Linked DNA regions of Homo sapiens: region 2 is linked to region 1. Evidence: fine-mapped expression QTL. Tissue or cell type: whole blood. Region 1 holds a variant in brackets; the other region holds the start of a gene. All regions are shown on one strand. Distances are between the middles of the regions.

Evidence for each region. PIP is the estimated chance that this variant, and not a neighbour inherited with it, causes the effect.
Region 2: C1orf74 starts here. The variant in region 1 is fine-mapped to the expression of C1orf74 in whole blood (TOPMed, PIP above 0.99).

What each region holds. Positions count from the first base shown.
Region 1 is chr1:209,754,883-209,762,988 of GRCh38, forward strand. TRAF3IP3 (TRAF3 interacting protein 3) reads left to right here and starts at 1,171. Exons shown (of 17, transcript NM_025228.4): 1 at 1,171-1,427; 2 at 4,152-4,252; 3 at 5,100-5,502; 4 at 7,633-7,780; 5 at 7,931-7,988. The coding sequence starts at 5,158. RefSeq lists enhancers at 894-1,053, 1,334-1,743. The variant A/G (reference allele first, on the strand shown) is at 3,799.
Region 2 is chr1:209,781,314-209,789,418 of GRCh38, forward strand. It overlaps C1orf74 (chromosome 1 open reading frame 74), which reads right to left and starts at 3,246. Exons shown (of 2, transcript NM_152485.4): 1 at 3,065-3,246; 2 at 1-2,396. The coding sequence starts at 2,321. The coding sequence ends at 1,512. It overlaps TRAF3IP3 (TRAF3 interacting protein 3), which reads left to right. Exons shown (of 17, transcript NM_025228.4): 16 at 32-145; 17 at 743-997. The coding sequence ends at 835. IRF6 (interferon regulatory factor 6) reads right to left here. Exons shown (of 9, transcript NM_006147.4): 9 at 4,304-7,331. The coding sequence ends at 7,107. RefSeq lists enhancers at 2,951-3,568, 3,125-3,384, 3,569-4,184.

The sequences.
Region 1 (8,106 bases):
TTTTGGTAGAGATGGGGTTTCACCATGTTGGCCAGGCTAGTCTTGAACTCTTGACCTCAAGTGATCCACCCACCTGGACCTCCCAAAGTGCTGGGATTACAGGTGTGAGCCACTGTGCCCGGCCAAAATTCTCTTTTTCTGACATCTTGGGCTCCCCAAGCCCTCTGTCCTCTACTCATTCCCATCTCTATGTGTCAAGCTCCAGACACAGGGCCTTGAGCTGTTGTCTCTCATCCTGAGTAAATGCCACTTGTCTTCAGTCCTAGTGCTTGAGAATCCATCCTCTGCTTTTCCCTGCCGATTCCTTGTCCTTTTTCTCCTCAAAGAACAGAGAAAGAAGCAGAAGCAGAGAAAATGGTGACAAACTCTCCACATGTTAATAAATGTTATCACAGCTATTTTTAAGTCTCATTACCTGCCTCACATGTGTCAAACCTTAGAATTCCAAAGAGCCACATACATCACCCAACTACCACAGTGAGTAGCATCCAGACAAGGTGAATTTTACAAGGTTACAAAGCTGCTCAGTTAACTTGTCCCAATCCAGTTTCCTCTCCACTATTTTAGCCTGAACTTCTTGGGAATTTCCTGGCTGCATCATTTGTGATGGCTTCATCTTAATGCATGCAAATCAGTTCCCTTTAGTTTTTCCCTAAATTTCCTAGTCCGGTTGACCAGATAAAAAAATGTGTAGAAGACTCTGCCTTCTATTCCTTCCTTCATCCCCCAGCTACCCACCTTTACACTCCCTCCTCATTGCTCCAGAAAGGAGCAAATCCAGAGTTGGTCTCATTCCAGAATCTGAGAAAGACACCACCTACTTCAGAAGAGCAGAAACTCTTTACAACACCAGGATTGGGAAGAGGTGGCTAAAGAAAAAGGAAAATCCTTACACAAAGAACTACCTGATACACATGAAAGCCTACACTGAGAACATCTCATCTAGGTCTTACCACCAAAAAGGCATTTTTTTCCCTCTCATAGAAACCACAAAGGTCTGAATCTGACCCAGAGGACTATCCTTTTCTAATCATGGAAAGGAATCTTGACTTGAAACTGTCCAAGAGCTCCGACCAATCCAGTAGCAAGAGAAAGGGTGGCCGGGGTGCCTACTGATGGGAGGAGCTCCTGAGCCCAGCCCTGGAGGCCTCAGAGTTCAGGGGCCCACTTAGATGATACCAGAGAGCAAGAGAGAGGAACTGGGGTTTGCGAACCTTGTGGCTTTGTCTGTTTCCTGTTTCAGCAAGGCTGCTGTGCAAAAAGAAAGACGGTACCAAGAAGGGACGTGTTAATGGGGCCCAGACCTATGGATTGAAAGCGTGTGCTTTACCCATCTGCTGTCTTGCTCCATCTGAGACCAGAGCCAAGATCTGCCCAGGACTGGAATGCTTTCCCGAGTGGCTTGAGTTGGAGCCTGGGACTAGGAGGTAACTGAGAAGGAGGATGCTTTTGTGTCCAGGTTTGGGAACTCCAACTTCGGGGTAGGGCAGAAGATGCTCTACCATCCCAGCTCCCCTGGGTGGAGAGTGGGTGGCATAGTTTAAGGGTGTCAGGGGTTTGGGTAACCAAGAAAGTATCCTGTATTGGTTTCCTGTGGCGCTAGCCATGGCACAGGGTACAGCTTGCACCACTCCTCTGTTCCAGTAGATTAGATTACATTAGATTAGGAGTGAGTCAAACGACTTAGAGTTCAGGCTACCCAGTGATATGGGCATGAATTAAATGACCTTTTACAGTTTTCTTCAAAGCAGGGATCCCTGAACACAAGACTGCCTTCCCAGCAGCTTAAGCGCAGGCCCCTCTCCCCTCAGTTCACACTGAGAGCTCTGGGCCAGGAAGGCCAACCCATGCAGGAAGCCATTCATTGTCTCCATTACAAACATGGCCAGGAAGTAAAAGCGAGACTCAGAAAGGCATGTCAAGCCACAGTCAGGTGAGGAGCCATGCCCTGTTCTCTCTCTGCAGCCTGAGAGACCAGGCTGAGCCTTCCCAGCCAGTAAACCTTCTTCCTCCAAGCTCTAAGTGAGCCCAGTCATGCTGCCAGGGGGGAACCTGAGAGATGCCAGAAAGCCTGGGCAGTGGCCAAGTGATCTTTCTTTGAACCCTACAGGGACCAGTTCCCTTTTCTTTAGCAGCCTACCCCTGTCAGCCGTCCCACATACCTTCTTGTTTTCAAGCAAGTCAGTAGGGTCCAGATATCCCAGAAACCTGGGTAGGGTTCTATGCAGCATGCTGCACCAAATCCTAGCAGGTGTGGTAGCCAAGGCATCTGGGAACACTCCCCTCTCTAAGGAGCCATTTCCACTGCAGCTCCTTTCTTGGGTAAGAAGGCTCCATGTCTGCCCCAAGGAAGCAGAGAGCAGAGCAGCTGTGTGTTTCAGTGGACTAAGGTTGGTGGCCTGGGTGGAGAGCCCAGAGAGACCTCATCTCAGGCACTGTCTTCTCCCCCACAGCCCTTTCCTCTTCGCGGCAAGAAGGTAGGAGGATTCTCAATGTTCTGCCTCCACTACAAAACCTGTGGGGAAGCTGAGCCAAACAGGGAGGGGACCTCACACCTTATGTGTGACACAGGCAGACCCCATCTCTTCCTTACCTTTCGGCTTGGTGTAATTGGGATGGCAATTATGTCCAGACCACAGAGAAGCCTTTCTCCTTATAGCCCAAACCCAGAGGTCAGAAGTAAATGTGACTTCAGCCTGGGGCCAGCATCCCCTCAATCTGGTAAACAATATACTCTGTCAAAGAGAGAGAGGGTTGAGAGGATGAGAGAAGGCATTCTTGGTCCTAGAAGTGCTAGTTTAGCTTGGAGCCTTTGTCTTACAGCACCAAGTCTTCAATATCCAACATCGGCATAACAAGGATAATATTCGCAATTACTTTTGCACCAACCTAATAGGAATACTTTATGTCTTTATTATTAAAAGGTAACATTTATTGTGTGCTCCATGCCAGGTGCATGGCCTGCATTTTGTCATTTAATCCTTATAACCTACAAGGCAGGTCCTAGCCCCATTTTATAAATGAGGAGACTGGGGCTTAGAGATGTTTAATAGCTTATCTAAAAACACACACAGGTTGTAGGTGACAGAGCCAGGACATGAGTCCACGCAGTGTGACTCCAAGAGCCAGGGTTCTCCACTGCAATCCATGGCAGAATAGCCAGGGGCTGTGGCTCAGGGATGCTGTGAGTGTAGGTTCTAGACATGGAGTTCACATGCACATAATCCTGCGTCTCCTCCATTCAGTCATTTATAACAATAGACATGGGTCTCTCAGACCCTTTCTTTTAAGTCTTTAAATAAAGAAAGTGGCAGGGAAGAAGTCAAGGGACCACCCCCTATGCCCACTCCCACCCTTATCCGAGAAGAAGAAGTAAGGAAAAACAAAGAAGAGAGCCATTCAGAATGGGTATGTAGAGGACAAACATTAATAACCTCACATTTCTGCTTGGAATCAATGCTGCCTGACACCAGAGTATGCCCCTCCAACCCTCAAGAGTCAGGCATTTGAGTGTCCAGGGCTTGACCACACAAAACTCCTCTCAGGGAAGAAGACTGCCCCACCCATGACCCTGGGGAATGAGTGGTAGGATCAGAGAGAAAACAAGAATCCTGCAGAGAATTCCAGACTGAGCCAGAGTAGCGAAGTCCCAGTAAAGGGGCAGAGAGTCTGCTACCTGTTGAGTCTGTTTGGCCTATAAATAAACCCCAAGGGGTTAGAGCTAGCAAATGCCTGCTAGTTGGTGAAGCTGAGATACCCTCCTCCCAGGGTGGTGGGTAATGAGGTCGTGGGAGGAAG[A/G]GAAGCAGCAGCAGCTGTGAGGGGGAGTCCCTCTTCCTTCATCAGTCCCTGGTCTGACTCCAGTGATCAGAGGAGGCAGGACACAGAATTTCCAACGCTCAGGATCCAGCTCATCCAAATCCAGCCCAACTCAGCAAAGTGACCAGAGGGTTCTAGGAGGATAAACTACAGAAGGTAGGTGGGGAAGAGTAGGAAAGAGAAAGGCACAGAGAAGGAAAAGGGGATTCAGGTCTAGGTGCTATGTGAATATCAGGTAAGGCCATGCAGAGGGTCATCCTGTGGCCCCTACACCAAGCCTGGCTCCCTGGAAACTTCTGATTACTGTCTTTGTTTTGTTTCTTTTCTGTTTGCAGCAGCCTTATTGAGGTACAATTCATGTGCTTGTGGGTTTGGATGGCACAATCTGTGTCTGGGCTAAGGAAAGCAGACTTGGCACCAACATTAACCCTGACAGGTTGGTAATCCTAAAGAAATGGAACCCTCAGCCCCAACAGTATTGGAGCCAGATGCTCTGAAATGGGTTTTGGCCAGCACTAGGCATGTGGCAGATGCTCAGTCAATATTGATTGGACTTGATCTGCACCTGAGAGACACAGCCCAGTCCTGAGCTTGGAGTGGGGGGCCCATGGACCATTGTCAGGACAGCAGGTTGGAGGAATTAGGGTAGGGTTTCCCTCCTAAACCATGCCAGGTCCAGGCTCACAAGCTCGTTGCTAAAAGTCAAGAAGAGAGCAGTGGGTGCTGGTCACAGGACTGGTCACCACCTGAGGGGGTGTGGTTAGCCCTCCAGATCCTTGAGAAGTGTCACTCAACTATGTTAGTGACAGCTTGGACCAAGAGACCAGTAAAGATACTGACTTTCCTTTTCAACTGGGGGATAAGAGGGCAGATTGGCTCAACTTAGCTGCTTCTCTAGAAGTCTGGAAAATGAACACACACCTGCCATCCAAGAGGCTATAAGCTCATTATGATTTTAATCAATTATTTCTCATGTTCCCCTGACTCAGAGGCATGGTAAGATGTTCAGTCAAGGAGTAAGTGGCAGCCATAGAGACCCTTTTACTTTACAAAGGGGAAACATCGGCTAGAGAAAAGCAGGAATTCACTTTTATAAGACTGTATTAGTTCATTAGAGACTGAGCCCAAGAGTCCTGACTCCCACTTTGATACCACCATGTCCTCAGTTTTCAACCCACATGGATGGAACTCTGTGCTATTTCTGCCCCCTGGTCTAGGGAGATAGTCATTTTTCTGCCCATCTTCTGACCCCTCCCCTTCTCCTCCCTCTTGGCATTTGGCAGATCCAGGCATCTATTCCAGGAACTGGAAGCCAAGCGCAACAGGTGCTTGGAGGTCATCATGATCAGCCCAGACCCCAGGCCCTCCCCTGGCTTGGCCCGGTGGGCTGAGAGCTATGAGGCCAAGTGTGAGCGCAGGCAAGAGATCCGTGAAAGCCGCCGCTGCCGTCCCAATGTGACCACTTGCCGCCAGGTGGGGAAGACGCTGAGGATCCAACAGAGAGAGCAGCTCCAGAGAGCTCGACTGCAGCAGTTCTTCAGGAGGAGGAACCTGGAGCTAGAGGAGAAGGGCAAAGCGCAGCATCCCCAGGCCAGGGAGCAAGGGCCCTCCAGGCGGCCAGGACAGGTGACTGTCCTCAAGGAACCCTTGTCTTGTGCCAGAAGGATTTCTTCTCCCAGAGAGCAGGTGGGCCGTGTCAAGGGACATACTGCTGTGTGCTCTGGGACCCTCTCTGGACAAGGAGGGTGGGTGGGCTCAAGGTCACTAAAAAGTGACCTAAATCAAGTCCTTCTTCCTCAGTCATATAGTAAAGTTGCCAAGAGCTACTTATAGTAAAGTTGCCAACAGCTACTTATTCAGAGATTTTTGCTGTTGTGTTTTCGTTTGTTTAGCTCTTTTTGTTCTGCACTTGACTTATAAGAGAGAAAAAATAATTTTTAAAAACAATTTCAGGCTGGGCATGTTGGCTTATACCTGTAATCCCAGTACTTTGGGAGGCCAAGGCAGGAGGATCACTTGAGGCCAGGAGTTCGAGACCAGCCTTTTGATAGAGACAAGACCCTGTCTCTATCAAAAACTTTACAAACTAACCAGGCATGGTGGTGCACACCTGTAGTCCTAACTAATCAGGAGGCAAAGATGGGAGGATTACTTGAACCCAGGAGTTTGAAGCTGCAATAAGCTATGATCACACCATTGCACTCCAGCCTGGGCAAGAGAGGGAGACCCTATCTCTAAAAAACTTAAAAATAAAATAAATAAAAATAATTCCAAAGCTAATGCCTATATCAGTTCAAATTTAGGCAATATACACATGTCTTCTACAGCTATCTTACAGCATTCATTCATCCATCAGTCATCAAATATTTACTGAAAGCTTATTATATGCCAAGCACACAGGCCAGTCTTCTTGACACACACACAGACATATCTGTCCTCTTTTCTTCTGCAAGGCTGTTGTGCCCACTCTTCTCACTTCCTCTTGTGTCATTCCAATTCTATTAAATCACTTGACTATAGCCTCATCTGGTCCAGGAAGCTTTCCCTGGCTTCTCCAGGCCACCTCTGCTGTCTATGGGCCTTGTGAGGTTAAAATCTTCTAAGATTGTGTAACCCTTAGAGGGCCCATTAGTCTGGCCTGGAAAGGAACAATGTTGGCAAAAACCAGGGTATGCTGAGATGACCTTGGCCAGCAAACCATCTTCCTACTGAAGTTGTGAGCATGTTGACAGCAGGGATGTGTCCACTATGTTCCATGGTAATGCTTGGCATTGTTCCCTACCCAGAGTGGGTACTCTATCAGGGCTTCTTAACTAGTGGATCTGTTATGCTCAATAGGAGATGCTGTTCAGAGAAATGATCCTAGAGCCCAGTTGCAAAAGAAAAGGAACTGTATACTAAAGCAAAAAACCTTCCCACAACTCCCCACTTTACCTAGTCTTCACACAAAACCTCAATGATTTTCTAGCTGTTACTAAGAGAAAGGAGGCTTTCCTTTGAATATGGAAGGAACCTTATGGATTATCTATTCCAAACTCCTCACTACACAGACAGAAGACTGAGACCTAGAAAAGATGGGATCTGAACCCAGATCCCCTCACTCCCCACTCAGACCAGTTCTCTTTCCACATCACCATGCTGGCTATGTAAGTGGCCATAACCAAACAAGGTAGAGAGAGAAAAAAAAACAACAACTAGAGATTCTAGAGAGAAAACCTGGAGAAAAGTACAGCTCCACATATGCCTGGCCTGAGGAGGACCATTTCTGCCAGTCAGGACAAGGATATCAGGAGCAGGAGAAGCCTGTGTGGCTCTGAAAGCTTGAGTGGGCTACTTTGGTTTTGTGGATCTGAAACATTGTCTTCGTCCTGTAATGAATTACCACAGACTGGGTGGCTTAAATAACAGAAATTTATTTCTTACAATTCTGGAGTCTGGAGTTCTAAACCCATGGATTCTGCAGATCTGGTGTCTGATGAGAGCACTCTTCCCACTATGCAGATGGCCTTCTTCTCATTGTGTCCTCACAAGGCAGAGAGCAGAGAGAGAAAGCAAGCTCTCTCGTGTCTCTTCTAATAATGGCACTAATCCCATTCATGAGGGCTACCTGCTCTGACCTAATTATTTCTCAAAGTCTCCACCTCCTAATACTATCACATTGGGAGATAGGATTTCAACACACAGATTTGGGCGGGGGGACAATAAACACTCAGTCCATAACAAACATGATGGTTAGTTCTTCCTTCCGAAATCATCAGGAGAGTCTTTCAAGAGGCTCCAGGCAGTGGTTTTCAGCATTCCCCACTTGCCTTCCAGGTGACAGGCACCAGCTCTGAAGTCTTTCCAGCCCAGCATCCTCCTCCCTCAGGCATCTGCAGGGATCTGTCTGACCACCTCTCCTCACAGGCTGGGGGCCTTCCTCCACAGGACACTCCCATCAAGAAGCCACCCAAACACCACCGTGGTAAGAGCAGAGCCTCCCTCACTCCACAGGGCCTGCAGAGAATCCTGAGACAACTGTCCCAGCTCACTGGCAATGGAGAGTCCCTGTCCCTCCCCACTTCCCTCACTTCCTCCCTGTAAGTTCTAAATCAACTTATCCTCCATCTCTCAGGTACTCAGACAAAGGCAGAAGGACCAACAATTAAGAACGATGCCAGTCAGCAAACCAAGTGAGTTCCTGACCCTAACCCTCTCACATCCCATCCATTCCTCTCTAGAGAGAACACAATGAATTTCCATGTCCGCCTTAATTAAGAAAGAGGAAGCCCTTCCCCACCCTACTGGCTC
Region 2 (8,105 bases), 26 kb after region 1:
ACAGTGATGACTTTGGTGATGTTCTCCCCAGTGCAGAGAACTGCATTCAGAATTAGACAACCTCAGTGACGAGTATCTCTCCTGCCTGCGTAAGCTGCAGCACTGTCGAGAAGAGCTGAACCAGAGCCAGCAGCTGCCTCCCAGAGTAAGAGGGTCTCTCCTTCCCATAAAGCCCTGGATGATGGGACGATTCCTTCTTTAACCAAGTTTTGCACATAAAATATATCAGCCCACGCCAACAACTGGCCATCCTGTCCCACTGTGCTTGGTTTATACTATACTGACATTATGGCAACCATTGAAAAAAACACTGGCTCGTCCATCAAAGCCCAACTTTCACAGAACTCTCAATGCCAGAAGGAAAGACTTACTCTTAGCTAAAGTATGAAAGGGTGTTCTTTTAGCCGATGATAAGCATGGTGGCAAGAACAGAAGGACACAAAAGTACTGGGGAATACAAAGAAAGAATATAATTTTGCTGGGTTATTTTCCACCCTTCATTATTCATATCAGTATTTATATATCTGGTCCCTGATGGATACGGCTCCCTGGGCCAGAGAACATTGGTTAAGTGGTTTTATCCCAAGACAGGTGACAAAATGGGAGACAGAGTAAAAAGCTTTTTCTCCACCACCAACCCAGCGTTTTCCACTGGGCTAGAGTAGGAAGAAGAAAGATTTTTGCCTATATCTTTTCCAATCCACTCATGGCCACTTTCTTCTGTCTCCCTGTCCCCCTACAGAGGCAATGTGGGCGATGGCTCCCAGTGCTGATGGTGGTGATTGCTGCAGCACTGGCAGTGTTCCTGGCCAATAAAGACAACCTGATGATCTGAATAATTTGTGACAACTGCCTTGGGTGAAAATCAGAAGCAAGCAACTCAGCGAAAAACTCAGAAGGTTTGGGTACATTACAGCTTGGGTTTTCCAACTGACTTAGGATTTCTGACTTTTTATTAATTTCTTAACCTACTGTAAATAAACTTCACCTGACCAGATTGTTCCTCAGAACTCTCAGTTTATTCCTGAATGGTGTATTACATTAACAAGTATCACATATTTAAGCATACTGGTGGTCTACTCTCCTCAAATTCAGTTGGAGGCATATAAACATGCAGAAAAGCCCCCAGCCCTACTTTCCTAGCATGCAGCACCCACATAGAGCAGGTATATTTACAAGGTTACCATGCAAGAGTGTTTGGCTTGTCTTCCATCACCCTGCTTTTCCTCTATCATCTCCTTCCTTCTATCTTTTATCCAGTGAAAATGAAAACATCTCCACTAAGAGGACTTCCTAGTATAGAAATGGCAAGTATGTACTATCTACCAATTTGCTACTAGCACCACCATTACCTATTTACATGCCCTTTGCATTTGTGGCCAACTGATCTACAGCATTGTGCCTTAGTGTATTCAAGACACTTGGAATTGGCAGTTGAGATGATTATTTGCCATCCCCAACCTAGAGATGATCATTTACTGAGTACCTTCTATATGGGAGGAGAGTTAAAGTCAGAGGGCCACAGCCGGCAGTGTGACTATCTCAGAGGAGATGCTGAGATCAGCAAAGTCATTCTGAGTCCTAAATCGGGTTCTGAGGTCCTTCTCCCAGGTGTTTAGAATGTCCCTCAGGCCTGGGAACAAACTCTCTGGGACACTAAAAGAATAGAGCAGGATTGGGGGTTGACCTAGCAACCATGAGATCCGGGCAGTGAATACTCGTAGTGGAGTCAGAGCTAAGCAGTTGTCATCTCCCTGGTTCAGGTGAAAGGTATAGGGAACAGGATAGCCCAGGAGGATCCCAAATACAGTACACAGATTCCAGTCTGAGGAATGGAGCCTGCTGTAGGAGACTGCTAGAGATAAGTCCCTCTGCAGCCCCTGCAAATGTGTGATGATCTCAGCCACGAGGGCCTTCAAGTCCTGAAGCTGGTCCAGGGAGCAGACAGAAGGGTGACGCTGGCAGCTGGAAACATCCACAAAGGCTATGGTACCAAGCAGCACCTGCTCCAAGTGCTGACATACATGCTCAGGACTGACAATCAGGCTGTTTTCTCCAATCTCAAGGATGTGAAGTCCAAAAGTCAGGAAGCCAAGCCCCTTCAGCTCCTCCAGATAGCTCTGGAGCTCTGATGCCCCTGCACAGTTGCAATCATAGAGCACAGCTGGCTTCAGTCCCCGGGCCACAGCCAGCACCTCTCCAGCTAAGTGAAGGCAGATGGCTTGGGGTGGACTCCGTCTCTTTCCCATGCCAAGGGTCTGCTGAGCAGCTGCCACCAGCAGCTGAGGGCTCGGTGATGACATGAGATCTAGAAGCAACATCAAGAATGGCCTCCTTAGCTAGCCCGAGTTCCCTTCCCTGGGTGGCATCTTTCAGCCAGACACTTGAGGAGGGGCCTAGAAACAAAGCAGGAGCAGGGAATTATTAACAGCCTTCCTGTTAAATCGCGGTATCTTCCAAAGGTTATTCTGTCCCTCCCTGCTTTGAAATGGCGACCCAGCCCAGACAAGATAGTTTCACCGATGCTGCTTGATTTTTCTGGTTGACTTGGTCTCCCTCAATCATAAATTCGTGTGTTTTTCTAGCCTTATAGCTAGATTTATATTCCCTCTGGCTTTTATTCTAAATTTCACCTGTTGCAAATTACGTTCTCTGGTTCAAACCGTAGGGAATTTGGGGCAGAGGCGGAGGCGGGGCAGTGTTTGGCAAAATTCACAGCATTTCGCCCAAAAGCCCTTCTGGGACAGAGCTCCAAGTTCCAAATGTATCCTTTCCACTGACAACTCCCCTACTCTTCCCGCCAGAGAATAGTTATAAGAATAGTAATTTGATTAATATACACCAGAATGTGGACTAACAACCATCTCACCCTGACACATAAAAATGAATGAATGAAATCCACTAGAACTGCAGAAGGGTAGTATTTTAACTTCTGCTGGCCCCGCCTTCCCTTTCTGTCCGACATCAAGGACCCTCGGAAGATGAGATTTCTCCGATCCACACACCCCACACCAGAGCATGTTATAGTGATTTGCTAAATGAGGCATAAGTCTGTCTCACATACGTTCTTTTTCCACGTCCGCTACAGGTTCGGGGGCTCAGAAACTTTTTGCGGCTTCCTGCCTGCTGCCAGAAAGGCAGCTAGTCCCCCACGCCCAGCCGCAAGTAACACTGGAAAACCCGCCTGCGCTGGGAAGACCCTCGCAGCCCGCTCTGCTCCAGTCCCGCAGGCACCTTCTTGCGCATGCGCACCCACTCGAGTGCCGCCCTCTTTCCCCCCATTCCGTGACGTCATCCAGCCGCTCGCGCGCCTCGCGTTAGAATCACTAGCTAGGCAGCCTTACTGCGCGCCGGAAGTTTGGGCCACCGTGCGGCCCGCCCTTTCCGGCCAGACTGAACGCGGCCCCATCTGTCGGCTTAGGAACTGGGAAGGGCGGAAGTAAACGAGAAAAGGCGGAACCTGGTGAAACTGGTTTCCCGCTGCTGCCCTCATTTTGCTTCGCCGAACGTCCTCCCTGTGTTATGACGTCTGGTGTCCCACTTGACTGGGAATCCAGAAACAGGGCACACAGCAGTTAATAAACACCTTTGATTTGTGTCTGTGGAAATACGTTTTGTCCAGACGAAACATACCTCAAGACAACATATTTTGCAGAATAGCCTCACCTGTGGGTGGTGCTGAAACGTTTTAATTTTTTTTAACTTGACTTCCCTAAATCCTACATTTGAGAGGCCTACAACAGCTCTCTAGGGAGGGTGTGAAGGTGTGAGTATTCACTTTGAACAAATATGTGCCAGTCATGCTGCTAGGCCCTGGAGGTACTGCAGTGAGCAAAACAGACAAAACCCCCACTTTCATGGGGCTTAAGTTCATGTCTACTGAATCCAGTTTGCTGATTTCAAATAAGAAATGAGAAGTGATGACACAGAGGCTTTCCAGTCAGGTCATTACAAAGAAAAAGTGTTATTTCACGTAAGAGTTAACACCTTTTTAACTACCAGCGATTTGACCCATGCCACGAAGGGAAAGGATTTCTTGAGAAAACCCCAATATCTAAGGAAATGGCCCCAATTTATTTATACTTGGAGCAGGACAGAGATTAAGGGAACAGTGGACACCTACACTGGAGTTGTCACTCCTGGATCTATCTTGGTGGTGCCTTCAGTCCATGAAAAGTGAATTGTACAGTAAAGATGGGGTCAGCATGGGAGGAGGACCAGCTTATAGGAGTTACCAGCCTAAGGCTGTCTGGTTCTTAGCTCAGAGGGAATCAGAAGCTGAGAGTAGAAAGTAGTCTTCTAATTTTAGAACGTTTTCCTTCCCCGCATTTATTTAATTTTCCCATGGTGGTTAACAGTAAATCCCTAAAAGACTGATTTAGTTCATTCATTTATTCCAGCAACAAATATTTGAGAACACACTGTGTCCCAGACACTGTTCTAAGGACTGGCAGCGAAGTCCAAGACAAACAGTCCCTACCTTCAGCAAGTTTGCAGTCAAGCAGGATGCGGATGCTGAGCATTACAAGGGAAATGATTATTCTGAGAGAGGAAGTATGGGGTGCTATGGGAACATACAACCAGGGACCTAATTTTATGGGAAAGGGACCAGCCCAGATCCAACACTTGCTCTCCCAGTTTACCTCCAGTAGGTTCTTTTTAACTTGAACTAATCTTGTTTGGTGGGGTACACAGTGAGGAAAAAGAAGAGCTAGTGACAAAATCTAACTCCCTTCTCAGTCTTAAGCAAGGTGAAGGCAAGGGAGTAGAAGATATCAAGGGAGTGAGTGGTGGTAGCCACCAAAGGAGATAGCAGACTGAGGCCCTAAAAAAAGAAAGGAAATCTAAATCTATCCAGCAGGACCAGAGAAAGAGTGCTGAGGGTGATTAGATGGAATCCCTGCATGTACTCTCCCGGCATTCTGAAAAGAAGCCAAAACAAGGAAGAAACCGGGGTATCTAGTTAAGACCTCACAAATCACTCATCCATTCCTCTGACATGTTCATAAACTTTTTATAGTGGTTACGAACCAAAAGCTTGGCATTTCTTGGCACTTTTCCAATACCCTTTACCAGCTCACATTATCTGGGCTCCCACCCAGGCTACAGATAGCCTGGCTGTTAGCACTTCACAGAAGGGATATAGACTGGCCCAGATTCAAGAGCTGCCCTTCTAATTTACCTACAGTGGGTTTTTAACTTTGAGTTCCCACGTAGAGATGGGGCAGCCAAATATCAAGCCCAAATCCCTCACTTCACCTACTCAACAAAATGACCCCCAAAATGTAAAGTTTCTGTGCCTTTAATGCTTCCCGGTCCCTAAAAGCCCAACTTTTCCTCGAAGCTGGGCACCTGACCTTTAGCCAGGTTTCTTAATCTTTTCATGCTTTTCATAATAGCAAATTCCACTAGGTCTCTTAGAAACTCTAAAACCAAGGCTTAAGCACTTTAAATAAATAAGTCCTCATGTCACCACTGATTTTGAACTTTTAGTTTTTAAAATAAGGCTAGCTCAACTTTTGAGTCATTTTGAAAAGTTGGAGATGGCCTGGTTTAAAGGTACCAGACTAGACATGGGCTTCCTTACTATGTCCCGACACAGACAGATAGGCATCACTATTCAAGAGGACTGGGGCTTGCAACCACAGATTAGCATCTTATTTGCCATTTAGGTCCCAGATTGCTTGAGCCCAGGAGTTCAAGACCAGCCTGGGCAACATAGCAAGACCTCATCTCTACAAAAATAAAAAAAAAATTAGCCAAGCATCATAGTGCACGACTGTTGTCCCAACTACTCAGGAGGCTGGGGCAGGACGATTGCTTGAGCCCAGGAGCTTAAAGCTGCAGTAAGTGGTGACTTGCCACTGCACTCCAGCCTGGGCAACAAAGCAAGACTCTGTCTCAAAAAAGAAGAGAAAGCTGAAAGGGTTAGAGACTCAGCAGATGTTTCTAGATAAGACCAGTTTGTGACAGATACAGCTGCATTGTTCTATACCACTCTTTACCTTCACTGTTCACACTCAGATACCTCCACTAGTAAGGGAGACAAGCAGGTTCGTGCTAGGTGAGCCTTTCCAGAAGAGTACTGCCCAGCCCTTCTTCATCCCAGCCTTAACACACTCAACAACCCATTTCTTCCAACTGCAAAAAATCTAAATGATACTGTCCCTTTTGTAGTCAGAGAAGTACATCTTAGATCCCCAGCTCAGTCTAGCTCAGAGAAGAAAACAAGAAAAATAGAGCTCTTTCCTCTTAAAGCTAACACCTGAGTCACATACTGTCACCTACCCCCTCTCCCTGCCGCCCCCCCAACACACACACACTGGTATTTGAGTGGTAATAAGGTAAATGCCTGACAACCTATTCTTCCACAGAATCCCTAGGCTTTCTGTGTCAACAGCTTCCCTTTAGAAGCCAAATTTGTGAGCTTTCACTCCACAGGCTGGGTGACTTTCAGACTTTGGCACCCATTTCTATTTAGATATCAAGCATAGTTTCTAAGCAACCAGCCAGCCAGCTCCTCTCCCTCTCACTTCCCCCATCAGGGAGCCAGCTTACTATACTAGCAGAACAGGTCAAACAGAGCTCGATCCTGGACAAATCAGTGCTTGAGGAAACTTTAACAAAACCAAGGAAAAATGTGGTACAAGAACAATGCAGAAGGATTCTGTTCCAGGCAGTTTAGCCTTGTACAAGTAGAAGAAGGTCATTGAGTCCGTTCTAAAGCTGGATGCAATTTCAGGCACTACTCCAATCTCTTCACTTTATAAGCAATAAATCTGAAGCCCAGAGGTTAAAGGACTTGTTCAAGGTCACATTGGAAGCAAAGCTGCAGCTAGAACTTTGGTGTCCAAACTCCCAGGCCAAATCTCCTTCTACTATGCTATATCATACTACCATTAGGAGATTTGAAAAAGAAAAGCAAAGTCTGAAGGGTGATTTTTCCATAAATTAAATCAGCTTTAAATCTAGGCATATTTGGAGAATCACAAACTTCTAACACTGTTAGAGAAAAGAGAGATTTAAAAGCTGGTTAAATCTAAACAATAAAAAAATCCATATGTACAATATTATAAAAAAGAGAAGGAAGAAGATGGCATTCACAATTACTGGGGAGGCAGGGCAGGGGGCAGTTGCATGCTGGGGGTGGGCTGCATGGGCTGCCAGCTCTCCTGGGTTTGAAGGATGCGGTACAGCTGCTTCAGCTGAGCAACGATGTTATCCTTGATGTCTGGGGTTGAGATCTGCAGGCGGACACTGCCACTATCAAAGGATCGTGTGAAATCACCAGAAAACATCTCGTAGATCATCCGAGCCACTACTGGAATGACCTGTTCAGGACACAGAACACAGGTGTATCCTCTGAGGAAAAGGTATTTTTAAATAGCACAATGGACCCAAGATTGAAGGACAGACCAAAGAGGCCCTGAGGAAGACCCCATTCTGATGTCTAAATATAGGATATGCCTTCATCTCTCTGGACCATCCTTCTGCCAAGGCTCACTGTGGAAGTTGGTTCAAATGAAGGTAAAGAACCTAGATGTAACATTACATCACAGGCCTAAATAAATGACTGCTTACTTTGCAAGACTTTTTACAAAATATCATCTATTGCTTGCCTTGCTACACAACTCCAGGGGCAAAGCCCAAGTGGCCTTGCTGCCACTTCCTAGAATAAATTTATATTCCTAAAAGTAACTCAAAAGGTTTTTCTAAGAAAGGCTGGAAAGGGCCAGGTATCGTGGCTTACACCCATAATCCCAGCATTTTGGGAGGCTGAGACAGGAGGATCACTTAAGCCCACGAGTTCCAGACCAGCATGAGCAACATAGTGAGACCTCATCTCTGCTAAAAATAAAATTAGGCCAGGCATGGTAGCCTGTGCCTGTTGTCACAGCTACTTGGGAGGCTGAGGTGGGAGGATCACTTGAACCTGGGAGGTTGAGGCCACAGTGGGCTGAGATGGTGCCACTGCACTGCAGCCTGGGCGACACAGCAAGACCATGTCTCCAAAAAAAAAAAAAAGTGCAATTTACATTGTGTGTGTGTGTGTGTGTGTGTGTATTTGTGTGTGAAGAAAACCTGGAAAGGGTCATATCCTGTGA